Regions from separate parts of the Homo sapiens genome. Here all the other regions are linked to region 1. The links come from fine-mapping of genetic effects on gene expression. A gene starts in region 1. Each other region holds a variant in brackets. All regions are shown on one strand. Distances are between the middles of the regions.

Region 1 (9,814 bases):
ACCTCCACCCTCCTCCAAGTGGCCATGCCAGAGGCCACCATGTGATGGCAAGTGTGTTCAGCTGCCCACAAAGACATCAAACACATGGGAATTCCTCACTTGGATGTGTCTTCAGTGCAGACTTCATCACTCTCAGGATTCTGGTTCGGTTCTAGGCTCCCATGAGGCTCAACTTCCTTGGACATCCTGCTGCCCTAAACTGTCTGTTTGGGGATATTTTGGTCCCAGCAGCCTTCAGCCATGTTCTCTCCACCCTCAGCAAAAGAATTTGAGGGCCTGAAGAAGGAACTATTCACTCTTTGGCCCAGATGGTGCCCTTAATGCCTCTACTCCAAAATATTGCCTCTTGGACCAATCCCCGGGCTCCAGGAACTTCAGCCTCAGGGAAATGGAAGTCGGTCCCTGTTTCTGGCCCAGCTTTCTATATGTGCTCCTTGGTCTGGGCCCAAGGTGTTGGACTCCTGTTTGCTGGGAGAGGCATTAAATACGCCCAAGGGCTTTGGCCTGCCATTCCCAAGGCAAGTATATGCATCTTGCAGAGATGTGAGGTCCCCAGCAAGAGGTCCACAGCACTCTTGCCATCCTAGCTCCTCTGCTTTTTCCTTTGAAAAGGCTCCCAGGTAAGGCAGGAACCCTGGCCTCACATCCAGGCTCTGACCCGGAAGCAATATTGGTGGTTCAGAGAGCAGTTATTTCCTAAAGACTGTAGGAAGTGAGTACATGAAGAAGAGTTTACTAGACCAAAACCTTGAGATCCAATAGTAAAGTAACAAAAACCCCTCACTCTAATCAACCATATAACAACAATAACAACAACAAAAAGTGTTCTAACATTCTGTTACTCTGTACTTTTGCAGTACTTTGGGACCATTGACAGCATCATAAACAGGAAAAGGACTGTGTCTCACCCAGAGAGAAAGCTCTGTTAGATAACACAAGGCCTCTACTCTTGATAACAAGCCCCTGATCTTCAAGATGCTTGTAGACTCTAAATGAAATGATATCACAAATACGGAAAAACATTATTATGTTAAATTTTTTTTTAATCCACCACATAGGACTTATCTATGAAGATATACAAGAGATGCACTGGCTCTTACAAGACTCAAGAATCGACTTGGCCCTATTGAGTTGGGCTCGGAATCTCCTTTACATTGATCCAACAGAAATAAAATGTACTATTTGGAAATGTCTATCAAGATTTAAAATGAATCTATCCTACGGTCAGCAATTCTACTTATAGAAATACATCCAACAGATATCTGCAGCAGCTTTGTTTACAGTAGCTAAAAGATTGCAAACAATCGATGTCCATCAGTAGAAGGCTGTTTAAATAAATTATGTGTCTAATGGACAAGTGGGATAATATGTGTAGCTATCTTCTTGTATATGCATAGAATATTTCTGAAAGAAGCCATTACCAGTAGTAACAGCTGATATGAATAGGGGATAGGGAAGGGTGCCTAGCCTAGGGGCCAGGAATGGGAGTTTCTTTTCACTTTATTCCCCTTCACACTCTGAATACTTACCATGTTCATTAATTGCCTACTCACAAAATAACTTCTTAAGGGAAAAAAATACAATCTGTGCTTGAAAGGAACAAGCCCACTGACTGTTTCGCTGAGTGTCAAAGAACAGAAGCTGTGAGTATCAACAAGGAGTCTCTAACAGGCAGACACGAGTCAAGAAATATCTACCTCGTTAGCAGGAGCCTCTAAAAACACCTGCTGCCTTTCTATCCCAGGAGACATCCACACATGAGAACTCTTTTTCAATACGGTCTTTAATATCCAGAGCAATAGATTTAAGCAAAAGCTAAAACTGAGTGGAGAGGAAGCAGCAAATATCCCAACATTGACACCAAAAAACCCTGCCCCTGCTGGTGATGGTGGAGAGGGAGGGAGGGAGGACGTGCCTAGACCCCAGAGTCCTTTTCAGGTCCAAATGTTCTCAAACCTTTCTCCGCAAGCTACAGCATCTCCTGAATTCTTCCCAGAAGAGCGTCTGACATGACCTCGTGGAACTCTGCACCACTTCATCAAGGACTACATGTTTTTATTTCACTTGCCACTTCCTTACCTTAAGGTGGGAAGAACCCTTTGGTCAACTTTCTGCTATTTCTGCAGCCCAGGCTCTTTGTCTCCAATCTTCTTGGTAGCCCAGTCCCTCCCTTGAATCACACCTATACCAATACTATGGCTGCTCCAAGACAACTCTGGTCTCCTTCTGCTGGTGGCTAGCATGGTCCTGTAAGAATCCCAGAGCCAACTCGATCTTCCTAGCACAGGGTGATTCAGACATCCCTCAACACCTGTATCCAACAGGTGATCACCTGCTGAAAGAGACACTTCCCCGATGCTGAAAACTTTACTACTACAAGATGAAAGGAACACTGTTCAAAGAGTTTGAACATTCCATGAAATATGACTCAGGCCTCAAGCAGAGAAGAGTCCTAGAATAGGCAAGGCCCATAAAATCAATTACCTCCCAGAAGCTCCAGAGGAGAGGCATGATTTGGCCACATACCCTTGGAAGACAGGACTGGCCATGATTCACATAAAAAAAAAAAAGTGACCTGCATTGCTAAGTTAGCCACCTTGTTCAGGAGAAAGAGTTTGATACATCTCCTCCTTTTCCTTTCTATAGGAAGAATTTGGGGTCTGGAATAAAGAAAACAGCAGGGCAGGGCAGTGTGTGAGACGGACCTCAGAGAAGAAATGAACTTACCTCTTAGGAGCATGATGCTGGCTGCCCACATGAAGGCTTTCCCCTCTCCCAACTTTCCCAGCTAAAATTTCAGGTATGAGAGATGCAGCGTTGCCTGTATTCTTGCTCGGTGATTCATTTATATTAAGGAAAAAATCATGAATGAGAACCATGCCTTTAGATAATATCAAGCAGGCATTCTTGTGTTCATGGAGTGCGAATAGGAAGAGAATGAAAGGCAACTGGCTCAAAGGCACGGTTCGCACTGATACGTGCATCGCAGACCTCAAAATAATACTCTGAGTGAAAGAAGCCAGACCAAAAAGGAAAACATGCTTTAAGATTACAATTCTATAAAACACTAGAAAATGCAAACCAATATATCGTGTCGGAAAGCAACAGATCAGTGGTTGCTTGGGGCTGGGGAGCAGGGAGGAGTAGGAGGGAGGGATGACAGAGAGGTACATGGAAACTTTGGGGGCTGGTGGCTGTTTTCACAATCTTAACTGTGGTGATAGATTCACAGCTGGATTTAGATATGTGTCAAAGCTTATCAAATTGTACATATTAATTAAACTCCAATAAAGGTAATTTTTAAGAAAGACCACTGTTTACGCTTAAAAAAAATAAAAATAAAAATTCTAAGACTGAAATCCTCCCCAAAAGTCAACCTGGTCATCCTAGTCTTTTGATATGATGTAACCCACCAGCTATGACTGACCGTGAACCAGCCCAAGGAAAAGTTGATGAAAAAAAAGAAAAGCTATAGCCAAACATCCCCCAGCCCATGCCAGCCACTGTCCAAATACCTGCCTTCTGCTACAGGAAAGGGGCTGCTCCTGACAGCTCGGCTCCACAAAGAGTGAACTTGGTGGCCAGTTTCCACGTGACCTATATTCCACTGGCCACCTCAACACTGCCCAGTAACAGCTGGGAGAGGCCCCACCTCCCACTCAGTTAATGACCCAGTCAGAGCTGGGGCAAGACAGGAAGAGGGAAAGACAAAGAGGATGTTCTCCTCCTGCCTCCAGAGATATTACAGCAACTCATACTCACTGGTGTCCAGCCCAAGTCAGACAGGAGGAACTGGCAGAATGTACCCATGAGGGTGAAAAAATCAAAAAGATGCCAAAAAGACACGTATTCCACAGGATCTGAAGACACGGCCCTGAACTTGGTTCAGAGCTCCTTGAGCTTCTGTTCTACCTGCTAGAAGGATGGAGAGGCAAGAAAAACATCCTTCCCAGGCAGGCCAAACTGTTTTCACAGAATTTGGTTGCAGCTCTTTATTCTCTGTTGCCATTCCACCTGCTCCAATGGCCCAAGACTGACTCCTAGTGCGGTCACCCCACCTAGGTGGGGACACAGTTACCTCACCTCAAAGAAGCTCAGGCGTCTTCCCAGCTAGGTCAGCTCCCTGCCACCTCACCTCTGTCCCACCAAACAATAACAAACCCTCAGCCTCCTTCGCATACCTTTTCCTGGGGACTTTTTGGGTGTACCACTCAGCCCATCTCAAGCCCACAGTGCTGCCCCAAATAGTGACCTGCCTGGGTCCCCTGCACGGACTCCTGTATCCCTGACCAACAACAGGCCTGCAGCCGCTAGCCTTTCTCTTGGCAGCTTGCACGCCTTGCTACCCTGCTGTATGCAGGAGGATCTGCTGCCGCTGCTCTGAGTAATTCTTCTGGGGTTTGCGTAAGCCTTGCACAGGGAGGAAAGCTGAGCATCCCACAGGAGCCAGGGCCAATCTTCAGAGAGGAATGGCTTAGAGATCTTAGGCAGGACAGAAAACATCTTGGGAACAACCGGAGAAGTTAAATGCCTGAAGTTTTCTGGGCCCCAGAATGAGAAGAAAATCCGTCCTTCTCCCAAACAATATCATGACGTCCCCACTATCTCAGAAACAAGAATCCAGTCTTGACAAGGTGTAAACATAGAGTTTGTCAGTGTGTTCTTCTGGCCACAAAGGACTTCCAGATATTTATCTCCATCAAAAACTTCCCTGTCTCCCAGGGGAAGTGCAGAGAAACTAAGAACTTAGTTTCTCTAAGTAAAAAAGAAGCAAATGACAAAGCCGAGCGGCGTAGGGCCTGCCACCACTTCCAACCGTTCAGTTCATTCGATACTGCCGGTCGGCTTCCCACTGGAGGTTTTGAATATGGAAAGTGCTGACCTGAAAGATAGGGTCAGGGCTGTAGAATCCTTAAAATAAGCACAGTTTAGAAAAATGCTGGGCTAGGGCACCCAGAAAACTTTTTCACAGGCTGTGGGTAAATCACAGTATCACTGAAGCCACTCCTTTGCCATAAACAACATTTGGAAAAGGGGGAGAGGAAAGGGTGAGCTGGTAACAGGTGAATGGTGGGAAAGTGGAGAGAGACGACCTATCAGTCCTACTGTGCAAATAAATCATGGCCCGGGATCTTGGAGGCCCACGGACACTGTTCTTACGACCCTGCCAGGCCAGCTGGCTAGACCATACCTGCCAGGCTGAAGCGCCGGCCTCTGCGGAATAAGGCGCCTCCCAGAGGCTTGGGAGGAAAAGGGGGGCCTGGGGGAAGGGCAGAGGGAGCTCTCCGCGGAGCAGTGGGGACGGGGCCGCGATGGGGTGCGTCTGAGAGGGCTCTGACGGCTGGAGGGCTGCGGGCGTCCACGGGGGGCAGAGCCCGGCGTCACAGGCGCGGCGGGGTGGGCGGCTCGGGGCACAGACGCCGGCTCCCGAGGGCACGCCGGGTGTCGCCCAGAGGCCTGGATCGCGCGGCAGGAGTAGAGTGCCTGCAGCCGCAGGGGAACTCGGGGGTATTGGGGAGCTCCCAGAAAGAAGCAGCTGGGGCTGCTCCCCCCGGGAACTCGGGATTCGCGGGTCGCGGGAGGAGAGAACCCGAGGTGCGGAGGGCTGGGGAATGTGGGGTCCGGCAGGTGCTGCGCGAAGCTCTCTCTCACCTGCGGAGCACCAGGAAGCCCAAGACGACCAGCAGCAGGAGTCCCAGCGTGCGGGCCGGCCTCCGCCGGAGGCTCCACGTGGTCATCGCGTGTTCTCTAAGCGCGGGGACCCGGGTTCCCACTCCAGTCCGCACTCAGCCGCGCGCGGGAGCCTCGCCGCGGGGGGCGGAGCCGCGCACTGGTCGCCTGGGCAACCGGCCCGCCGGCGCTCATTGGCTGGGGCTCGCGGCTCCGCGCCTGCAGCCCTAGGCCTCGCGCAAGCGGGGGCGGGGCTGGCCGGGGCCGGGGCGGGGCCTCTGTCGGGGGGGGGGCGGGGCGGGGCTGGTGGGCGGGGACGAGGTCTCGGTAGGAGAGGGGGCTGGCGGGGGCGGGGCTGGCGGGGCGGGGCCCCGGCCGGGGGCGGGGCGGGGACAAGGTCTCGGTAGGGGACGGGTCTGGCCGGGGCGGGTCCCCAGTGTCGTGGAGCGGTGCAGAGTCCGCCGTCTTTCTGCTCGCGAGGCGCAGGCGGGTGCGGGAATGCTGCGTACCTGTCAAACGCCGAGGTAAAGTCGCCCCTCGCAGCGCTACATCAGGAAGAACGTACAAAAGGCGTCCGCAAAGCAGGGGCAACCAACAGAATCTTTTAAAACAATTCAGATTCTGAAGCAAACAACTTTTTCAATAACAAATCATCCTGTGAAAAGCCAGGATTTTGAAGAATTGTATCTGGACACATTTCAGTGTGGTTCATGTCTGAGGAGGGGGGGTTCCAAATATTTTCTGTCTTTGGTTTCTGCGAGTCTTACTCTGGCCTTGACTCCAAGGGCTTCCAATTTTTTATTTTAAAAAGGTCCATATAAAACTCTCACATTTTAGGAAAGGAAGAATATCATTCTTATTCTGAAACAGAATGTATGTCCCAAAGAACATGATGTAGTATTTCGGTGCAACTTACACTGTAGCAATCACAAACCCAACTCCTCCCGGGAACAAAATTCAGATTTTACTGAAAGAAACTCGAGGAAGGGCAACGTTTTCCAGAGCATCCGGGTTTGTCGAATGTCTCCCTTGCCGCATGCTTTGAATTCATTTCCTAAACGGGGGCATAGTTTTGAACTTGTAAAGCCGACAGGAACCAAATGAAATTGCAGATCTTGGAACAAAGACACAGACTTGGGTATGAAGTGTCCTTTGTCTAGCGTTAAGCACATATTTAGTCAAGGAGCAAAAGTTAAATCAAAGAGAGGCAAAAACAAACGAACAAACAAGAGGAAAAAAACCCTGGCAGAACTGGGGAGGATAAGCTGGGCTTGGAGCAATCCGGGTCTGACTTAAGCACCGCAAACATTCCCAGAGGCGCGCAGAGGGAGGCCCACTCCCGTGGACGCGCTCCAAGCCCGCTCCTTTTCTCCATTGGGTAAGGCTATGATTGCTTGATGGCTATGAAGTCTGTGATGGAAACATGTTGGTTTAATTGGAATATACCAGCTAGCCCCGAAGCGTGTGGAGAAATTGTCAAAGGCTAGCCCCTTTGCCTGCAGGGGACCATCCGAAAGACATGCACCCCACATTCATCCTCTCACTTCTGGTCACGTTGAACAGTGGCAGAATCTATCAAATATAAGGGAATTCTCAAATGGTTTAAGCAATACAAGCATCTCCATTTTTCTTCAAACGTTAGCAAAAACTTAACATGGGTTGTGAAAACCGTGAACTCCTTGGCCCACCCTTGTATCCTTCGTTTTTATTTGTGCGAGAAAAATATACATAACTGAGTGTTTTCAAAAAAATTTCCCCTTAACCTTGTGGGATGTTCAGAACTAGGGACACACCCTGCTCACAGTCTAGGAACAATTTTACTTTATCTGGGCTTAATGATACCACAGAATGCTACAAAGTTAGCACTAACCCGAGATGCGTCTTGCTCATAGGCTGAGACTTTTTTTTTTTTTTTTGAGACAGAGTCTCACTCTGTTACCCAGGCTGGAGTGCAGTGGTGCAATCTCAGCTCACTGCAATGCCTCCCGGGATGCAAGCTATTCTCCTGCCTCAGTCTCCCGAATAGGTGGGACTGCAGGCACCCACCACCTTCCCCGGCTAATTTTTGTATTTTTAGTAGAGACGGGGTTTCACCATGTTGCCCAGGCAGATCTCAAACTCTTGACCTCAGGTGATCCACCTGCCTCGGCCTCCCAAAGGGCTGGGATTACAGGCGTGAGTCACCATTTCCAGCCTGAGACTTTTGTTTTTTAAAACATTAGGCCGGGTGCGGTGGCTCAAGCCTGAATCCCAGCACTTTGGGAGGCCGAGGGGGGCAGATCACGAGGTCAGGAGATCGAGACCATCCTGGCTAACACGGTGAAACCCCATCTCTACTAAAAATACAAAAATTAGCCGGGCGTAGTGGCGGGCGCCTGTAGTCCCAGCTACTCAAGAGGCTGAGGCAGGAGAATGGCGTGAACCCAGGAGGCAGAGCTTGCAGTGAGCCGAGATCGTGCCACTGCACTCCAGCTTGGGCGACAGAGCGAGACTCCGTCTCAAAAAAAAAAAAAAAAAAAAATTAGCAAGATACTCCTTCAGTGTCTCCTTTCCAAAATGTTTAGTGATCTTAACCCAAAGCAGACAGTGAAAATACTCAAATCCCTGGGAACAAAAGCTACAGTTACAATGAGCTGGCATAAGAGTGGGGTAAAAAAGTGGTCTGCCAAGGTGCTTGGCTTGGTAATGAATCCCTGGTACACAGGAATCATCCTCTTCCCAGGCCTTCTTTCTAGTGTCCAGGGTTTAGAAAATACAAGAAATGCTTTTTAAAAAAGTTAAATCTTGTTGGTGTGCCATTTCCATTGCTCTAAGTCAGAGCTCCAACAGACCCAGAGGGCACAGTTCCTTCCTTGAAAATTCCTGTATCACAGATAATCAGCGGGAAACCGAAACACATACAAAATGCACACACAGGAGAATAAAAACCACACTCGCTCAAAATCAGTACAGTGAAGTCACGTGGGAAAAGCGATCATGTCAAACTAGTCTCATTTGCTGTTTCACTTTTTATTTTTAATAGGTAACAGGTTTACAGATCAGTTATTCATTCACGTAACTCATTTTTGAGGGCACTCTGCTAATGCTTTAAACACAGGATATCTGAATTTTAGGAAAACATTGGCAAAATTTCTTTTAGTCATGAGAATAAGATGAAAAATGTGGCTTCTACGATAGTACAGTCACTTGGGCCCCTGGACCAAGATATAACCCTCTCCTCCCCACCTCCTCCTTATGGACAGACACCTCTGTCCAGCAACCCCCATCCACCCTCCCCTCAGGAGAAGCAAAGTCCAGTTATGATGTCAAGTTGCCAGGGGTCTTGAACAAAGAAATTCAGAGCACAGGAGAATTCCTGGGAATAAATGAGGGCCATTTCAACCCTAGCCAAAACAAAATAGAAAGTCCTGGAATGGAGATTTGGCCTAGGAAAAAGAAAAGAGAAGGCAGATTTAAGATAAAGGAAGTAGACAAAGCTTTTCAGCCCCAAAGATATGTGAGTGGGACTGGAAGGGGCCTGTGCACATCCGATAAGGATGCACAGAACTTGATCTTTGGCCTTACCAAGCCTAACTATCATTTTGTAGGCTCAGCCTTTGAAGGCCTAATAGCCAAAGATCTAATTCTGCAGCATTGTATTTATTAAAAAGTAAATGACAAATTTTAATGACCATAAACAACATACTGAACACTGTTTCACATGCTTGGGATGTATCAGTGGACAGAACAAAGATCTCTTCTCTTTGAAATTTCTGTTCTAGCTAGGGAAGAAAGACAATAAAACTTAACAGAATGAATAAGTAAACTGTAGAGTATATTCAAAGGTAGTAAACTCCATTGCAAAAATTTAAGAAGTAATAAGGGAGCCAGGCCCAGTGACTCACGCCTGTAATCCCAGCACTTTGAGAGGCTGAGACAGGCAGATCATTTGAGATCAGGTGTTCAAGACCAGTCTGGCCAACATGGTGAAACCCCGTCTCTACTAAAAATACAAAAATTAGCCAGAAATTGCTTGAACCCTGAAAGTGGAGGTTGCAGTGAGCCAAGATCATTCCACTGCACTCCAGCCCGGGCAACAGAGTGAGACTCCATCTCAAAAAAAAAAAAAAAAAAAAGTAATAAGGGAAGGAGGACTGGGAATGTG
Region 2 (9,804 bases), 40 kb before region 1:
GAGCAATTAACTGGCAGAAAATAAGGGTGAGAATAAGAAGCTGGTGTAGGAAGACCTCACCTTAGGAAACCACAGTGTGTCCTGCTCAGGTCTGCGTGGAAGTGTGATCCAAGGGGCTTCTCCACCTTACAGGAGGATTTGCAGGAAGGTTCCCTTCCATTCCATCACTTTCTGACGGAACCAGCTCATACACAGCTCTGCAGAAGCACACACTCAGGTAAAGCGGGGCAGAAGACCCTGCAGGTGGCTCAGGCCACACCCAAGTAGCCCGAGTCTCATCCACATCTTAGCCCCATGCTTGTCGTTCCGAGGCAGTTCCAGAAGAACTGGTGAGTTTGGGCAAAACCAGGGACTCTGCCCCATGTTGTTCCCAAGCCACTGTCCACAAGCTTTCCTTTAATAAGCTCCATTTAATAAGCCCTTGACCCGGCTCAGCTGCTGGGCTGCACACCACGAATGTCCCCTGCACTCCCCCTGGGCAGCCACACACGGGCAGCAAGCCTGCTGGCCTCAGTGAGCTCCACGGCTCACCATCCCCCAGCCCACCTTCACGGGGCTCCCAGAGCTCTCGCTGTGCCGGGGATGTGTGTGCTACTTGACTTTCTGACTCTTACTGGAGATAATTTGGTTTTGGCAGTAGATGCCAGATGTAGTTTGTGAAGCAAAACTCAACCCCGCAGTTAACTCATATGGAGCGCCCTTGACTGCCTGGCAGATTCTTACCCCCGCCCACCAGCATGAGAATGAATTTGCATTTGAACTGTCCTCTCCAGGGCACTTCCAATCCAGAGACATTTGAAGGGAAGTCGGGGTCAGGAGGGGAATATGAGGCCAGGATCATGGCCCACCCACCCCAGGGACGGTCCCCATCTGGACCCCCAGGCGGCAAGTGGGGCCCAATGGGAACCTGACCAAGAAAACCAAGCTCTCAGACAGCCTTCCCTTCTGGCAAGAGTGGCACACATGACCAGAGACTATCACCAGAGGGGGTGTGATTCAAGGTTATAGCTTTACTGCAACTCAGGACAGTGAGCCCAAGCCAGGTGTTGGGCTGGGCCCCAGAACAAGGCTCAAATGCGGACTTGGACACACTTCGAAGGAGGGCTGCTCTGCCCCTGCTGTTCGGGCGTGGGGGGTGGGGGGCGGGGGCCACTGAGCTGGGCCTTCTGTCCTCCTCCCTGGATGTGCAGACATGGGCCATGGCTTCTGCCAGGACTCACATGTGAGCTGGGCCTTCTGTCCTCCTCCCTGGATGTGCAGACATGGGCCATGGCTTCTGCCAGGACTCACATGTGAGCTGGGCCTTCTGTCCTCCTCCCTGGATGTGCAGACATGGGCCATGGCTTCTGCCAGGACTCACATGTGAGCTGGGCCTTCTGTCCTCCTCCCTGGATGTGCAGACATGGGCCATGGCTTCTGCCAGGACTCACATGTGAGCTGGGCCTTCTGTCCTCCTCCCTGGATGTGCAGACATGGGCCATGGCTTCTGCCAGGACTCACATGTGAGCTGGGCCTTCTGTCCTCCTCCCTGGATGTGCAGACATGGGCCATGGCTTCTGCCAGGACTCACATGTCCTCCTCACTGAACACCAGAGACACCTGCTAACTTGGGAAGACGCAGGGTGAGGATTTCTGTTTCTCCAGCCCAGCCTGTCACCCTGTGGGAAGCAGCGAGTGGGAAGGGAAAGGGGAAGTCACATGTTTCTCACGCCGAGTTCCTTCCAGAATCCCAAAGAAGGCTCAGAAGGTTGTGAAGGAAGAACAAAGTCAGCTCAGGTGAGACACCCCTTCCCCACCCTCTACACTGGTGACACACCCAGGATTTCGGGGATAAAATGGGGCCATGAGGGATGTGGCCAAGCCTCCCAGGAACCAGCAAAGAGCACGCCTGAGTCCAGCAGATGCTCGCAGGGCTGTGACGTCCAGTGCAAGGGCACGTTTCAGCACTTTTTCTGAGGGCCAAAGGCTGGGCGATCTGATTAGCTGCTCCCACCCTAGAGACAGCCCGACAGCCTCGGCACAAGAGCAGGGCTGTAGGAAAGCCATCATCAACAAAGCCAGGCCCAGAGCCATCCCACCTTTCCCTGCAGGCTTAGGGTTTTGAGCTGAGACAGGGGCAGACTGTAGCCCCCAGTCCCTGAGGTTGCTACTTAAGGAGATGCTTTTGCAGTGAGGGGTGGGGCAGCAGCCACCAGGCTTCAGGTCAAGAGGAGGCGGCAGTCTCCCACTGGCACCAGCAGGAGGGGGTGCCACCGCTCACTTAATGTACTGGTTCCTGCCCAGGTGGGGGGTTTCCGTGAACTGTAATGCAGGGCCCGCCATCGTCTCCTCAAAAACGATGACCTGTGGAGAGAGGGCCCGGCTGGGAGGGCAGCTGACGTCTGTCCTGGAGCCAGGGGAGGTGCTGAGAGGTGGCAGGGTCAGAAGGAAAGGGTTTGGGAACCAGGCTGGAAGGGACAGGGACCAACAACTCGTCTGCAGCGAGGAGGAGGGAGGAAGAACCCGCTGACACGCCCCTCCACCCTGACCGAAGGCTCCCTGGGACGGCAGGTGGGCAGGGCGTCATGGGGAACAGGAAGGGGCTGGAAGCTCCCACCTGGTTGATTCCGCTGCTCAACCAGGGACCTGGGAGGTAAAGCGTCTTCTGGGGTCCAATGTTCCAGTAACGTCCAAGGTTCTGGCCATTGATGAATACAACCCCCTTCTCCCAGCCCTTGAAACAGAGGGGAAGGGTGTTCATCTACCACGAGAGCCACAGCAAAAGTGGAGGGAGACATGCATGCGTGCTTCTCTCAGGTCCAGGAGACCAAAGCGAGCTGTGTCTGGACAGCCATGAGGGTGGGCAGGTGGGATGCTCTATTTCCTGTCCCCCTAGTGCATGAGGTGTTTCTTCTGCTGGGAACCCACTCCTCTGGCCCAGGGAGGCCCCAGCGGCCCTCTCAGACCCTCTGGGCACAGAAGCCACCAACGACTCTCGCCAAGCTCGTGGCTTTGGCTCAGAGCCCTCCAAGGCGGGAGGCAGGTGGGAGAAACTGGCAGGGAAAAGGGCGTTACCAACCTCCAGCTTCAGAAAGGTGTCACAAGGGGTGGAGCTGATGGACAAGCTACCCAAGAAGAAAGCAGGTAATGTGGGTGTTTCTGGGAGGGAACTCCATTTGTCCAGGCCGAACCTAAGGACAGAACACAGAGAAGGAGAGGGAGGAGGCCCTTCTCAATCCACCAGCACAATAAAGCAAAATAAAAGGCCCTGACACCGTTTCCCCATCCAAGGCCCCCCGCCTCTTAACCAGGACACAGAATGGCAGCACGGTAGGATGCTGGGAATTCCTAGTCTGCAAATGCGGCTTCTAGTGCGGGTGCCACCCCTCACCTCGGCCAGCCGATCTGGCCCCTGGAGGCGTTCACACCTGGGTGCGGGCCAGGCCACGGTGCACCAGGGACCCCTGGGCCCCACCACACAGCACTATACCTGTGAGTGCAAGGGCTGGTGCTGGGCAGGGACCCACCTCTGAAAGAAGCTCTTCTTCATATCCAGGCTATAGATTCTGAAGTTTTTCAGGGGTGAATCATTCAGATAGAGATTTCCAATTAAGCCTGTGGGAGGGAGGCAGGACACGTGGGTAGCCCAAAGGCAGGGGCCGAGTCAGCTGGGCCGGGGCCACGAGGGGAAGCCCTGGGAAGCTGGGGTGAGGGGTGCTGAAGTGTACGCTCCCTGAGAAGCTGGGGTGAGGGGTACTGAAGTGTACGCTCCCTGGGAAGCCGTTCGCTTGCAAGCAAAGCTCCCTAGCAATTCTGTGGGGGACGGGAAGGAGGAAGACCCTAAGATTTGCCATGGGAAGGATATAGAGCTGAGGTGTTACAGGGCGAGAACAACCTCTGGCCTCTCTCTGAAGGAAGTTCCAGATGACCGAGAGGGTTCTGGCCTAGCTGCAGGGCCAGTTTCAGTGGGGCCCAAGCTACACAGACCTAATAACTCAGCCAGAATCATCTCTGCCACCTAGGATTAAAGCTGTGCATTAGGAGTGTTTGGACTGTGAGCAGATGGCACCCTCCCTCGGGCATCCAACAGGGAAGAGATGTGTCCTCTTGAGGAGCCACTCATCAGTGTCCCGGGGCCGGGCCAGCCCTGCCAGTCTCAGATTACAGAGCTGCTGAGTGGCTAGCTTGGGAATTTGGAGGCCGAGGACTGTGGAGAGGCTTTGCAGGGCCTACAGACTCCGAAATGGCAGGTGCGGGTCTATGTGGGCACGCGCATTTCTCAAGGGAGGTCTGTGACTTATAAACATTGAACTGTGATCCAGAGGACAGGACTCCACAGTGTGGGCCCAGGGGACCCTCAACAAGGGCTCAGGGAAGCAAAGTTAGGAACAATGGTCAGGCTGGTGCTCCTTCCAACTCCCAGGAGAACAACAGAAGTGAGGACAGGCCCAGAGAGGGAGCTGTCTAGGGTAAAGGAGTGTGGGCCTGGGTGGTGCTAGATGCCGCTCTGAGGCCCATCTAGAAGGGCCCTGATCCCCAGGATCCAGGCCCCAGTGTCTGGGCCACGTGGCTTTCCTGGCAGGCCACCAGACGGCTCTCGGAGGAAATGTGGACCAATAAGAGCTCTTCAAGTTTCCTCCGTCACAAACGCAGACACCGTGAGAGAGCTGGGAGGTCACCGGTGCTGCTCACCACAGTCGCATTCATTTTGTTCTGAGTTCTTTTTTTATAACTTACCTGAAACCACCCACATTTAGCTAGATTTTTTTTAAAAAGGAAGGGCTAAATTTGGGCACGGTGGCGGGCGCCTGTAGTCCCAGCTACTCGGGAGGCTGAGGCAGGAGAATGGCATGAACCCGGGAGGTGGAGCATGCAGTGAGCCGAGATTGCACCACTGCAGTC[T/C]GGCCTGGGTGAAAGAGCGAGACTCCGTCTCAAAAAAAAAAAGGAAGGGCTAAATTAAAGCATAAAAGATTTAGTAGGCCAGGAAACATAAAGCAAATTGGCGGCCTATTCCCAGAGGGGTACGCTACCAACAGGTGTTTTGTTTGCTGTATGTCCCGCATCCTCCTCCCCCAACATCTGAGATAAGCTTTCCCAAGATGGATCAAGAAGAGAACTTCAGTGTGGAGGCCCAAGAAGGCAGGGGTCTTGTGCCTTTCCTTGGATTCCTGGAAATCACATTCATTGCTCCTCACTGCCGCCCCCCCAAGCAGACATCCTTGCAGAAACCGACTGCAGCCCAGGGGAGACAAGAGGCCAGCTCAGTGTTCACAGTGTTTATCACGAGCACGCAGACGATGCACGCGTGCAGTGCTAACAGGACAGGGGCCACAGCCCAGCGGAGTTTCTCTGGCCCACTCAGAACTGGCCTCATGTATGGGACAACCCAGCCTCCACCTCCCTGCAAGAGGCCTCCATGGCCTGGTGGCCTGCTAGCATAGAGAAGCAATAGCCACCTGTGTGTCCAGCATGGCCACTCTTCTTTTGACACATTCTGGGACCCACCTTTGCGCTGGTCATCAATATTCTCCCCATAGTTGACTCGCCCACGATTCTCCACCAAGATCCTCAGCACGGTGTAACCCTGCCGGGAACACGGGGCTAACGATGACTGTCAGAAGGCCACAGCTGCCCCTCAGAATTTGCTTGTGGACCCCAGTTCTTCCCTACGCTCTGGGGATGGGAGTGTACATCCCAGCTGGGCAGAAAGCCACACTCGCCCTCTCCACCTACAGCTTGTGGGTAAGGAGCCACGGGTCTCCCAGGTTTTCCTCAGTGACTGCCCCCAGACTTCCTCGAAGCAGCGGGGGCTAGCCATCACCCAGCTCCCAAAAACAACGAACCTGGATCAGGGGGACAGCAATCTTCGTTGTCTTGTAGTCCAAGAATCCTATGGATACTGTGTTCACAAACACCTGCCAAAGGGAACAGGCAGGAACATCCATGACCAACAGGAGGAGGGTAAGCGGGACCTCCTCCAGGCCAAGAAGGGCAGCACGCGTGCCTGTAGGCAGACGAGGGGCCAGTGGGCAGAGCAGACATGAATGCCCCCTGAAGGCTCACAGAGCTGACTCAGAAGGGCCATTGTCACACACTGGTAAGAGCTGATTCTGAGGGGAGGGCATGAGACGCCTATTGCAGAGCTGCTCACCAGAAGGTCACAGGAATTTAGAAGAGAAGCTCCTACCTGCCCCCGATCATGCACGTGGCCACTGAGGATGCCAGACGAGGTGATGCTGGTCTCATAGAGAATGTACCCGAAGGACTGTCCATTTCCCCCATTGACTGGCAGGTTCTCCATGTTGATGGGCTTTTCAGACTTGATTGGCTGCGTACAGAAGAGATGGAGGGGTGGGCAGGCTCAGGAGGAGTGGGGTCACAGACAGACTCTGCCTGGGGGCTGGCACATGGGGTGGAAGCGGAGGTTTGGTGGGTGTTTTCTACTTTGACTTCTCATTGCACTAAACATACAACTCTCCAGGGTGACGGGGAAGAGGAGTGGGGCAAAGGGGTGTGCACCAGCAGAGTGCAGTCCGCAGGCAGGGGACACACATCACAGCCTCAGTCCGCCGGAGGAGGCACCCCCTTCTTGGGGAGGGGACGGCCTGTTCCTCTGCCCCTCACTCTCCTCTCTGAGGCTGGAGGAAGGAAAGGCCCACGGGGCCAGCCGCTGTTCCTCAGGGACCTCTGTTTCTCCCACTTCACACTCCAGCATGAGTCTGTCCTCTTCCCTCTGAGCTCCAAGGCCGGAGAGCAGACCCCAGAGCCACCAGGCACTGGCCTGCCTCCCCCCACACTCCCTGTCTGGAGGGGCTCCAGGCCCTGCTGCCCCGACGACTCTCACCTCCCGCCGACGACTGCCCCCAGCACTCACCTCCCTGCCAACGACTGCCCCCGGCACTCACTCACCTCCCGATGACTGCCCACAGCACTCACCTCCCCCAGGTACTTGAGGGCGTCCCACAGAGACAGGTACAAGACTGGCGTTAAGGGCTCATACGGCATCTTGGGAAGAAGGTCAGGTGGGGGAGGGAGAGGGATGCCTGCAACACAGAAAACAGGGTCACCCCCAACGGACCCAAATGTCACTGCCTGCTCGTCCTCCCCACCCGGCTCCCATCCACAGACCCGATGTGCTCCTGCGTCCCAGCACCAAGAGGAACAACAGGCTAGCTCTCAGCACCTGCTGAGGCCAGGGAGGAAGGCCAGGCCTGGGGGAAAGCCAGGGCGTTCTCCCGTCCTCCACAGGAGATAAGGAGCGTTAACACCTGTAACAGGTGAAGCCGGCAAGATGGAAACAGCCTCACACACCTCCCTGTCCTTGTCTAGGATATTCTTGCACGCAGATCAACTGGGGTCGAGGTGGGACAGTAAGGAAGTAACTCTTTAGGGGTCTGAGAGCAGAAGCGAGGGCCTGAGTTGGAACTTGAGTCTGCTGTCTGCTGGGTACCTGAGATGGAGCCGAAGAAGTCTCGAAGCTTCATGTACTTGGCCGTGTAATCGCCGGCTTCTGTCAGCACAGCATCATAGTCTGCAAGACACCGGGCCCTGTCATGGTCATTCCTGTCCCCAGCACAGCACATGTAGCACGAAGAACAGGGAGAAGCTTGGAAGGGCCACAGGTCTTCATCTCAGCCATTGGGGAGGCAAGACACTTTTGAGCCATTCAGTCAAAATACTGTAAACATGAAAGACCAGGCAACTACAACAAGCGTCCATAAGGCCAGGTGCAGCGGCTCACACCTGCAATCCCAGCACTTTGGGAGGCCAAGGCAGGAGGATCGCTTGTGCAGTGGCTCACACCTGTAATCCCAGCACTTTGGGAGGCCAAGGCAAGAGGATCGCTTGTGCAGCAGCTCGCACCTGTAATCCCAGCACTTTGGGAGGCCAAGGCAGGAGGATCGCTCGAGGCCAGGAGTTCCAGACCAGCCTGGGCAACATAGCGAGACCCCCACCTCTACAAAAAATTTTAAAAATTAGCCAGAGGTGGGGGTGCACACCTGTAGTCCCAGCTACTCAGGAGGCCGAAGCAGGAGGATCACTTGAGCCCAGGTATTTGAGGCTGCAGTGAGCTATGATCACACTACTACACTCCAGCCTGGGTGTCAGAGTGATAACTCTCTCACAAATTCAAAAAAACACAAACTGTCCATGATCACAGCATGGCCCTAAATTTCTAGCTGCAGGTGTAATTTCTACTTTCTGGGACTCTCAACCTAAAGGAGGCAGGATCACACCTCCTCAAGGGCCTGGGCAGGGAGGGGAGGCCACCGTCCCTCCCTGTCCCCCTAGGGCGGTCTCCTTCCACTTCCTCAGGCCAACCTTTGCCAAAGAGGCCTCTCTGTAGAGTGACCAGCTCACAGGCACACCACCTCCCTTGAGGCTTCCCTCCTCTGGGAGTGTAACATGACTGTCCAGGCAAGTACCTTCTCCAGGTACTCTATTGCCAAAGACACGAAGGTGCCAGAAGTTGACCCTGAGGGCCTCTCCATAGCAAGTCCCAGCCATGCCCATGCAGGGCAGACCAGGGAGAGCAGTGCTGATGAATACTTGCCATAGCTGGTGACATCTGACTTGTAGTCATGGAAGTGCATGGCTCCATTCATGAAGCCAAAGTTGGTGCCTCCGTGGAACATGTAGAGGTTGATGGAGGAGCCGGCGTCCACAATGGCAGACACGGTTTTCAAAACCTCTGCCGGAGGAGGGAGAAAGGGGATGTGCAGAGTGAGTTAAAGTCTGAGATGAGCCGGGGTCCCTTCACTACTCTCCTCTTTCCCAGTCCCACCTCAAAACCTCAAGGCCAACTTTGTCACTCTGTCCTTCTAGCTCTCATAAAACCCCAATCACAGAAGATTAGGGGTGGAGGAGGAAGTGTGGGCCAGAATCATGGCCCCAGAGCTCGAGCCTCCAGTTGTCTGTCAATCCTGGTCAAGTCTCTGAGCTCCATGTGGACCACCTGCAGCCCAGGTCGGCCAGGGCCTTCCAGCCAGCACAGTCTCCATGTGAGTCTGCCTGACCAGGTGTATCAAGTGCACAAAGATGGGATGCATCCTTAGAGAGAAAACTCTGACACCTCCTATTCTACCTTTGTTAGGAAATGAACCATGACATAACAAGATCATAGCAAAGGAGAAAAACAAATGGTTAATAAATATATATTTTATCAATATAAATCAAAGAAATGCAGACTAAACAATGATGTACTGAGTAGACAAATATTAAAAGTTATTTTAATACTCGGTGTTGCTGAATCTGTGGGAAATGGGTGCACCCATTCAGCAGCAGCGGCTGAAGCTGCCGTCTTTCCGGGGGCTGAGGGGCGAGCATGCACATCTACACGGTGCCGAGGAGCCCCTGTGCCGCTCATCCCAGGGAAAGCCGGGTGCGCAGAGCGCAGGCTCCGGGATGCTCACCGGGATGCTCGCCGGGATGGCGTGCGCTTAACAGAACCACCAGAAACAACCCGGGAGACTGTGTCCACAAAGTGTGGTTTAGAATGGGGCTCTTCACATTCTTTAAAACAGTCATGTAAATCTGTATTTGGTCATACAGAAAGCTGTCCGTATGTGCATTAACTGGCACAAGCAGGTGACATGCAGCGGAGTGTGATGGCATCTGTCTCTATCTGTGTGTGCGTATAGAGCTGTCGGCAGAGATACAGAGAGAACTGCCTGCGTGGTAAACAGCTAAGTGTTTTCTCTGTGCTCTGGGAATTTTATTTCTTCTCTATACTTTTTCTGTATTTTCTGGATGTTTGCAATAGGCATGCATTACCCTTCTAATTACAAAAACACGAACAAGCAATGTTAAAAGCCCTCCCATTCA
Region 3 (9,814 bases), 51 kb before region 1:
CCAATAGCAAAGGCATGGAATCAATCTAGGTGCCCATCAGTGGTGAACTGGGTAAAGAAAACATGGTGCATATACAGCAAGGAATACTACACAGCCATAAAAAAGGACAAAATCATGGCCTTTGCAGCAGCCTGGATGCAGCTGGAGGCCATTATCCTGAGCAAATTGACACAGGAACAGAAAACCAAACACGATGCATTCTCACTTATGAGTGAGAGCTAAACACTGGGTACTCATGACTGTAAACATGAGAAGAATACACACTGAGGACTCTCAAAGGAAGAACGGCTGAAAAACGCCCTGTTGGGTACTATGCTCATACCTGGGCAGCGGGATTCATCATACTCCAGATCTCAGCATCACATGCAATATGACCCATAACAAACCTGCACATGTGCCCCCAAATCTAAAATGTTGAAATTATTTTTAATATAATAATTCGTGGTCCATATATGGTTAAAAAAAAGAAAAAAGAGAGAGAGAAAATAAAACCTCTCACCCCTTTATCCAGGCTTTGATAAGTAGCTGGCATTTTAGGGCTGCACGGGAGTTACCCTGTTTAATTCTGAGAATGACCTTATGAGGTAGGGATCCACAGTGCCCCATTTTATAGATGGGAAAACTGTGGCATGGAGAACGGAAATGACTTGGCAAAGGTCTTACAGCCTGTGGGTGGCACAGTTGGGATTTAAACCTGGTGTCTCTGCAGTCTGTGCTTCTGACCCCTGCACCCTACTGACTTTCATAAATGGAGCAGAGCCATGGCCCTGTGCCTGTGGGAAGGACAGAGCCCATTCCACTCTAACAGGCAGACAAAAGAGGTCCTCAGGTGATGGACAGTTGAGGCTCCATTGTGGAACCCCCGATGCTGTGTGTCCCAGAGCAGGGCCCAGCCTTGCTGGCATCCATTCCTATACCTGGGTCTCTGGCTATCCGCTTCTGCTCTCTCTTGCAGGTGTCCACCCCCCAGGGTTCCTGACCCCTGCCCCTGGACAGCGACCCCTTCTCAGACTCCAGTTGGGCCGGACTCTCCAAACCTGCTTCCGCAATGGGTGGGTTGTGAGTGCTGGTAAGACCTGCTAGCCAACATTCAGCTGCTCTGTCCTCTCCATGCCTGGCCGGCCCGGCCCATGCCTGTTCTTTTCTCCCCTGTGCTGCCGCCGCCCGTGGCCGCCCCTCTCCTGAACTTACCGCCACTCAGGTAATGAGGAGCCGTGGGTGCAGCCAGCCTTGGAGATGCCGAAGAGACGGGACATCCTAGCGATCGTCCTCATCGTGCTGCCCTGGACTCTGCTCATCACTGTCTGGCACCAGAGCACCCTCGCACCCCTGCTCGCGGTACATAAGGGTGAGCACGCACGCATGCCCTGCCTGCCCAGCTGGGCCTTGGTAGTGACAGTGACCACAGCTGACACGCAGGGTTCTTGCTTGCACTCACTTAGCAGCTAGGAGGAACCACGGGATCATCTAGGCCCCTTCATGAGTCTTGCACCCCTTTGGGAATGGGAAGCTAATGGAAGCTACCCACACAGTTTTAAGATGCCTGGGATGGTAGGTTGGCAGACACCAAGACAGTTGCCTTGAAAGAAGAGCTTGTTACTCTCAGCACCCAAGAGGAGGGGGCACGCCCTGCCCCCTGGGGAAGTGCTGAGGTCGGAGGTGGGAAGTGAAGGGAGGGGGAGGTGGGAAGTGGAGGGAGTGGGAGTCTTTAGTGTGGTTTTGGTAGGAAGGAAAGTGGTTTTCATAGGAAGGGAAGGGCGAAGCACTGTCGGCAGCTGAGCTGGCCCAGAATTGCATAGTCTGAAGAAAGTCAGTGGGTTTAGGATATGGGTGTGGTTTCTAATTGTCTGGTATCGCCCTGGGGTGGTTTAGGGCAGCGGAAGATTGGCTTGGGTGGGAGAGCTCCATAAAGGTGGTAGTGGGTATGAGCTCTAGATCAGGTAGTTTGCATATGAAAAGTGTGTTTGCAGGCAAGGTGTGTACTGTCACTAGGAATTAGCTAGTCCCGGGAGGGGCAGTCCCTCCCCATATCTGCAAGTCCCCCAAGATGTCGACGCATCTTAAAATACAGAAAAACTTAAAAAACAAACATCATTAATACACACACATACACAGAAAGACACGCATGTACAACTTCACATGCCATTTCATGACATGCAAGGAAAGCGACCATTCTGAAGTGGATGGTGGGGGAGGAATAGGATTTCTGGCCTGCAGTGTGTTTTAAACCCTTTCACAGAGAGTATATTGTTTGCCTCTCTTCTTTTCCTGTGTAGGAAACCCTGATCTAGTGCTACCTGGTGGAAATAGGGCTGGAGAGAGGAAAAGTCCCGTGAAGAACTAGTGGAAGAACTAGGGGTAGAACTCCTTTCCCCTGGCTCTGGGTCCTGGGTCGCCTTTCCCTCTCACTCCCAAACCTGCCACGCACCCCACAGCTGGCTGCCCCAGCTCTTCAGCACTTTGTCTCGTGCTTTTCTGCCCCCTCCCCCACTTACATGCACAGGCTCACGTGGGGTCAGGCAGCTGTTCGTTTGCAGCGTGCATGATACCACCTGGCAGTGTGATAAACAAGAAGGCAGCACCAAGCCCATGCAGAGAGAGGTGGTGAGTGCCTGTAACCCCAAGATGCAGGCAGTGTCCAAAAATCACAGCCTGAAGTCGTGCTGCTCCTCACAGTCAAATACCAAGTCCTGCAAACCCATAGCTGTTCCTGAAGCTTCCATGAGGAAGGGCCAAGCTCAACATTGCGGCAGCCCACTGCCCGTGGCTGGCACTTGGCGCCTGTCTTCCTGACATCATCCTCTCCTCCCGACCCTAGGGCCTCTTCTCTGTGCTTGTCAGTTCAGAATCATTGTTATCTTGCAAATACATCACTCCAGAGGGGTTAAAACTACTATATATAAAGCGACATGATATCGTGTCGATTGCGTTCTTGGCAGAGCTCCAGCGCTGGAGACGTCAGGCTGTTTGCTAAGCACTGATGGTGCTGCCTGAGGCTGGGGACTTGGCATTCTGTCTCCCCAGAGCATGCCAAGAGCAAGCGAATGAAAGCTGCAGCTGAGTGAAGTTAGGGTCACCAGGAGGCCTTTAGGACCCAAAATTGCAGACGCCCTGAAGCCAATGGGAAGGGCGAAGCCCAGGAGCACACGCAGTAGCCGTGCCCTAATGTATGGGGACTGTCCAAGGGCACAGGTCCTCTGCGGCCTTGGGATGATTTGGGTGGCAGAGAGGTGGACAAAGTGGCTCCAAACTTCCTCTCAAGGCCTCAGTTTCCAAAACTTGACTGCCCATAGGATGAATTAAGTCCTCTGTCTAGGTCAGAACCCTAGACACCCATCCCGCTTTCTTCCACGTTGCTCTTCTCACAGTTTGACCCCAGACTCCTCTAAGCAGCCCCCTCTGAGCGACTGCGTGTGTGCTGGTTTCCTCCCCCGACCCTCAGCAATTGCTGTGTGCCTGGTGCCATTTGCCCATGAGAACTCCTGAAGAGCCACGAGCAGGCCTCCTGGGTCCGTTCAGATGAGCTCCACGCTAGCGTGCCACACACCCCACATGCTGCCGATGACAGTGGCCGGAGGGAGGCAGCAGAAGAGCTGATGCCCGGGGTCCTCCCCTTTGGTGTGACTTGCTGGTTCTGTCCCCACCGATTGCCTGAAGCCAGAAGGAAGCAGAGTTGGCCACTGCCCTTCCGCAAGAGAGGAAACTGTGCCTGGCGGTGCTCTCAGCCCTTGTGGACTCATTAATCCACATAATAACTCGATAAGTTCGATGCTATTATTAGCTCCATTTTACAGTTGCTGAAATTGAGGCGCCAGAAGCTAAGCAGCTTGCTCAAGGGCACAGGGTTCGTAACGGCAGAAGTGGGCAGGGTCTCAGCCCAGGCACCGGGATTTCTTACCTTTACCACCCGACGGTAAGCTAGGACAGGAGGGCCACACCGTCATTGGTGCATGAGCCCTTCCGATGGAAGGACAGAATTTGGAGAGAAGGGAC[G/A]CATGGAAAACAAGAATCCCAATGGCCCTGATTTCTCCTCTTGCTAGGACTGCTAGATCTACATATACCTTGGCAACTATGGGCAAAACCCACGAGAATAAAATGCGGTGAAATAGGAAGTTCTGCACCGAGATTCAGAGAATGCCTTACGTAAGGCCAGGAGGGAAGAGGCCCCGCTTGACTGGAGGGCTTGAGAACTCCGGGAGCTGCCTCAGGCTCCTGCGGGCCCACAGTGGGCCCTGGTTGCTGCCGCAGTGCTGCGGCCCTGGGGCTTTGTGGCGTCCACACCACAGCGGGGCAGTGCCACGTGCTCTGCTAGCCCAGCCCTGCACAGGGCAGTGTGGCCAGCTCCCTCCAGATGAGTAGGGCTAGGGAGGGGAGGGTCGGGACGCCTTTTCATAGGAAAGTCAGCACATTCAGGAACTGAGGATGCAATCTTGGAATATGGGCAACTGCGCTCAAATAGCTAGAGGGCTGCAAAGGTGGGAAGGAAGAGGTTATGTCTGTGTCATCAGAGCTAGGACCCTCCCAGAGAGGATTCCAGGGCTGCAGATTTCAACCTTAGAGCTAACAGGTCAGGCAAGGCGGGGGTCTGAGCAGCCCCTGCAGCGGGGGAGGAGGAGGGTGCCCTGGCAGGGTGGGTGGCGTCCCGCTCTGAATCCAGGGCCGTAGCCGGCGCTCTCCTCCCACATCGCCGGTCTCCCGACTCCGCAGATGAGGGCAGTGACCCCCGACGCGAAACGCCGCCCGGCGCCGACCCCAGGGAGTACTGCACGTCTGACCGCGACATCGTGGAGGTGGTGCGCACCGAGTACGTGTACACGCGGCCCCCGCCATGGTCCGACACGCTGCCCACCATCCACGTGGTGACGCCCACCTACAGCCGCCCGGTGCAGAAGGCCGAGCTGACGCGCATGGCCAACACGCTGCTGCACGTGCCCAACCTCCACTGGCTGGTGGTGGAGGATGCGCCGCGCCGGACGCCGCTGACCGCGCGCCTGCTGCGCGACACCGGCCTCAACTACACGCACCTGCACGTGGAGACGCCCCGCAACTACAAGCTGCGCGGAGACGCCCGCGACCCACGCATCCCGCGGGGCACCATGCAGCGCAACCTGGCCCTGCGCTGGCTGCGCGAGACCTTCCCGCGCAACTCCAGCCAGCCTGGCGTGGTCTACTTCGCCGACGACGACAACACCTACAGCCTGGAGCTCTTCGAAGAGGTGAGGGAGGGCCCGACAGTGAGCAGCGGGACCTCCGGCTGCGGGGAGTGGAGGGGCTTCCCGAGAAGGGGGTGTGGGTGCGGAGGCGCGCGCAGGGGGAACCCGGGAAGCCGGGCTGGGAGCGGGGCAGGCAGCAGAGAGCCAGGGAAAGGGATGGAACTGCGGGCTAAAGCATCCCCCACAAGTTAGGGGGAAGACAGGTGGCTCTGGAGCCCCTAAACCATATTCCTGGCCCTAGAGGTATCTCCTGAATGGGTTTGTGAGTAGGTCATTCTGCGTGACTACCAGAAACCTCTTAGGTGGAACAGTTGGAGCTCGCCTGAGTATATGGGCTGTGTTAGTCTCGGGGACAAGGGGAGTCACTTCACACTCTAGAGCGGGGAGACTGAAAGGTTTTAGACAAGGGAGAAAACAGCAGCAGGGCCACGCTGAGAAGGGGAAGACCAGGCCGTCTGAGAGGTCAGGTGTCCCCGGCAGCCCAGGGCAGGTTCTTCTCAGGTGCCCAACCCATGGGATGGGTCCTGGGGGCAGGGCTGTACTGGACACCCCCTAGGTGGCCGCGGCTGGCCATGGGCATAGATAGAGGTGGCTGAAGGATGTCGCCTCCCTTGGGCACGCGCGGCCGTCCTCATCTGCAGTGCCGGCGCCCTGACTCTGGACCCCCCCCTTGTAGATGCGCAGCACCAGGAGGGTGTCCGTGTGGCCCGTCGCCTTCGTGGGTGGCCTGCGGTACGAGGCCCCACGGGTGAACGGGGCAGGGAAGGTGGTCGGCTGGAAGACGGTGTTTGACCCCCACCGGCCATTTGCAATAGACATGGCTGGATTTGCCGTCAACCTGCGGCTCATTCTGCAGCGAAGCCAGGCCTACTTCAAGCTGCGAGGTGTGAAGGGAGGCTACCAGGAAAGCAGCCTCCTTCGAGAACTTGTCACCCTCAACGACCTGGAGCCCAAGGCAGCCAACTGCACCAAGGTGAGACCCTCCGCAGAACTGACAGCTGTGATGCAATGTCTCAAGTACATCCAGACCCTCCCTACAGATCGGGAGAAGGAAACAGAGGCCTCAAAATAGCCTGGGCTTTCTGGAACCCCCTCCCAGGAAGGCAGTGTATCACCTGTAAGGCAGCGACACTGCGGACAGGCAGGGAAAGGGAGAGCAATGGCCACTGGGGAGTTATAACCTCCCACAGAACAGCCGTGCTCCAGCACCTCCCTGCTGAGCACTCATGCACACACACATGCCTACGCGTGCACACATGTGCGCACACACACATGCAGATGCACACACATGCACACATATATGCAGGTGAACATGCACAGACATGCACATATACACATATGCACATGAACATGCATACGTATGCACACACACACACTTGGGAAGTCTTGGGGCTTCTCTTTTCTGTAGTTCTAGACTTCCCATTTCCAGCAGGTATTCCGAAGGCATCACATGTAAAAACAGCAAAAATGAGGGGGTAGTCGAGAGCCACAGAAAATAAATAAAAAACAATTGAGAAAATCTTGATGGAACAATTGAAAAACTCTCGAAGGAAAAGGAGGGGCAGGAGAAATGTTTACACAGTGTGGGAGGGAGCAGGGAGGCAGCAGAGTGAGGTCAGGGGCCTGTCCCACCATGTTTTGCATCTCTGGGCACACAGATCCTGGTGTGGCACACACGGACAGAGAAGCCAGTGCTGGTGAATGAGGGCAAGAAGGGCTTCACTGACCCCTCGGTGGAGATCTGAGCCTCAGGATGCAGGTATGGGCATGACGAGGGTGGGCCACACACTGGGCAGGGCGGCACCAGGTTGGGCCGAATCAACTGTCTCATTCTTTTCCTCTTGGGCTTTCACTGTGGAGGACAGGGCAGATGTGGGCAGGAGTGGAGGGCGTCGTCACCACAGTCCCCTTCCCACTGGGCCACCTGAAAGTATCCAGGCATTAACTTTCACCCACGCAGCTGGGTCCTTCTGCCACCAGACTCTTCAGAGGGTGTCACCTTCCAAACATCTTGCTGATTTTTCTGCTGGCAGTGACGCCTGCACCCCACAAGGCACTGCCATTCAGACTCTCGCTGGCCAGCGTCTGTCCCCCCAAGTCTGCCTCTTCCCCTGTGGATTCCTTCACCACGTGGCCATGGTGAGGACTCACGGACTCGCTGCTCCACAGCAATGAGCCCACGGCTGTCATAGTGAGAGGTAGCGCAGAGTGACAGCACGGACCCAGAGCCCACCTCAGCTCCCAGGACCCCTGCTCTTCACTGTTTGACCTGACTTGACTTTTCTGGGCCTCAGTTTCTTCATCTGTGAAGTAGGTTGCTGAGAGCACCTAGAACAGTTCATGGCACTTAAATCTCATCAGTGTGGCTATTTTTATTCAAGTCTTTAAAGCCCTCTCTGGAAGTAGGCCACAGGATCCACCTACACTTCAGAAGCAAAGAAATGATGTTGAGAGAAGCTAAATGAATGTTCCAAGGTGACACACTGGCACGAGTGAATTGTGCTGGGTGGTTGGCAAAGCCAGGCATTTTCAGGGGCTTTTCTGTGATCTTATCCTGTCTCTTAAAAGCAGCTGGTACTCCTGACTCCCTACTCTAGGTTATGCCAAACAGAGGTTGAGGCCTGAGACAGACATTTGTCCTCTTGCCCTGGAGCTAAGCAATAGCTTCTGTATTGTGTTTGCCCGCAGAGGACCACAGGGTGTCACTCAGTCACCTTGGCCAGCGCCACTTAGAATGCATCTGTACCGAGCCTCACTTCTGCCTCCTGCCCTCACTGCCCTCACTGGAAGCACCTTCCCCACCTGCCCCTCAGAAAGGCCCCCACAGGACCTGGGGGCCTGGGCTTTGCAGAGGTCCTGGTGGCCCTGCCTGGCCATTCCCTCCCCGGCCCCACCCTCAGCCGACACCTCACTCATTCCTCCTCTCCCCTCACAGGAGCCTCCTCCTCAGACCCTGTTCTTGGCCTTCCATCCTCTCCCCACGGCTGATGGTCCCTCCAAGGCCGACTCCTAAGGAATCACCATCACCCTCCTTTCTATTCTGGGGGCTTCTGAGAGAGCCCAGCCTGATGCCAGAACAAAGGACAGAGAATTTAAGCACAGAAATCCCAGACCTGTTGTTCTCTCCATCCAGCGTGACCAGGGCCCGAGAGACCTGATGGCCAGGGTGGGGTGTCCAGCACCAGCCAAGCTGGTGCTCCAGCGCACCTCCCCAGAGCTCCCCGCACTGACGGGGCTGCAGGAGCAGGTGCAGTGGGCGCCCACACTGGCCCTGCAGTGATGCAGGGCGGGAGGGAGATAAGAAGACCCCGCAGTCAAGTGGAGCATGGCCCTCCCTGGCTCCCTGTCCCTGGGCTCAGCACGACCACACAGGACACCCAGCCAGGGAATTCTGAAGACCAGAGAGCAGCCCACGGGCATCACGAGCGCTCTGCTCCTCTCCTGGGCCCCTGCTCTTCCCGAGAGCTGCCCCCAAATCAGACATACCTCTGTGGCTCTCCTCTGGTTCACGTTTACAGAGCATAAGGCTGTCTTGGATCCCAACAGGCACCCAGCCCTGCATGGGGGGAGCCTGGGCCTAATAGGCACCCCCTGTACCTCAGGCTGTGGCGGGAGCAGAGTCCCCCCCTCCGGCCCCTCTTCCTTTACCCCTTCTCCTCCAGCAGTGGCAAAGGGGTAGGCTCTAGAGCCAGCACAGGTCACTGCCTGACCTGGACTAAGAACCCCACGGCCCCACTGTCCACACACTGCCTCCCCACCGCCCACCTCGGCTGCTAGGCCCCTCGCCTGGACTGGACTGGGGAGGGAAAGCGCCTTTTCCTGCAGCTCTTCAGAGCCACAGACCTCAGGGTGGAGTGAGCCCATGGTGGGCAGTGGGCAAGGCGGTGGGTGGTGGGCAAGGTGGGACCTCCTGCAGCCTGGAAAGAGGAGGGAGGCCAAGGCCATTCCCTAACTCCCTCCTGCCCCTGGTCTGAGGAGGAGGGACTCTGGAGTAGCAGAGGGGCTGGGAAAGAGGGGGCAGGGGCTGCTGGGACACTGAGCAGGAGGGAGGCCTGAGCACACTGCTTTGGAAATTATTCTAAACACAAAAAAGGGAAAGAAAATGTTATTTCTCCCTAAGTCAGGAGCATGCAGAGCTAGCCCACCTCATGTCCAGCTGTCCACTTTCCATCCTGGAGAAAGAACAGTGTGCCTCAAACTCCTGCCCTCCCCAGGCCTCTGGGGCCCACTGGAAAGGGCTCTGACCCCCTGGCCCAGCCGGGCTCTCTAGTGGTGATCCGGCTCATTCTCCTGCAAGTTGGAAGCACAATTTTCCCCCCAAGTGGAGGAAAAGGAAAGGGCCCCAGCCTACTGAAGAGGTGTTTATTTTTTAACTAACAGCCTCCCACCCCATTAAGACTCACCAGGAGAGGTCTGAGGGCCATTCAGAACCCACTCCTGAGTGGGTGGGTGGGTGGGACTCAGTCCAGAGACCTAACATTCAGAATATAGCATTGGTTGCCTATTTTGAGATGGATTTAATCTCCCACAGTATTCATGAGACCATCTGATGGAATCAGATCCCTGAGCCACCTTGCAGGACGTTTTCCCCAACCTCTTAC

Direction of the effects. Positions count from the first base shown, and alleles are read on the strand shown. Sizes are in standard deviations (SD) of each study's normalised expression. Not every link is listed here.
For the expression in tibial nerve of the gene that starts at base 5,812 in region 1, allele G in region 3 goes with a lower level than allele A (small effect, 0.29 SD a copy in GTEx).

The links. PIP is the estimated chance that this variant, and not a neighbour inherited with it, causes the effect.
Region 2: its variant is fine-mapped to the expression of GLB1L2 in testis (GTEx, PIP above 0.99). The same link has a PIP of 0.9 or more in thyroid and unexposed skin.
Region 3: its variant is fine-mapped to the expression of GLB1L2 in tibial nerve (GTEx, PIP 0.96).

What each region holds. Positions count from the first base shown.
Region 1 is chr11:134,327,986-134,337,799 of GRCh38, reverse strand. GLB1L2 (galactosidase beta 1 like 2) reads right to left here and starts at 5,812. Exons shown (of 19, transcript NM_001370461.1): 1 at 5,653-5,812. The coding sequence starts at 5,738. RefSeq lists a silencer at 5,663-5,962.
Region 2 is chr11:134,367,511-134,377,314 of GRCh38, reverse strand. GLB1L2 (galactosidase beta 1 like 2) reads right to left here. Exons shown (of 19, transcript NM_001370461.1): 10 at 8,534-8,671; 11 at 7,430-7,510; 12 at 6,916-7,022; 13 at 6,167-6,307; 14 at 5,823-5,894; 15 at 5,485-5,563; 16 at 3,507-3,594; 17 at 3,059-3,170; 18 at 2,597-2,713; 19 at 991-2,343. The coding sequence ends at 2,257. It overlaps LOC124902798 (a long non-coding RNA gene), which reads right to left and starts at 519. Exons shown (of 2, transcript XR_007062961.1): 1 at 61-519. RefSeq lists an enhancer at 1-854. The variant T/C (reference allele first, on the strand shown) is at 4,882.
Region 3 is chr11:134,379,082-134,388,895 of GRCh38, reverse strand. B3GAT1 (beta-1,3-glucuronyltransferase 1) reads left to right here. Exons shown (of 6, transcript NM_054025.3): 2 at 956-1,348; 3 at 4,708-5,216; 4 at 5,890-6,186; 5 at 6,872-6,972; 6 at 8,149-9,814. The coding sequence starts at 1,237. The coding sequence ends at 6,958. Among named protein-coding and RNA genes, the nearest start is that of B3GAT1, 28 kb to the left of the region's middle. The variant G/A (reference allele first, on the strand shown) is at 3,994.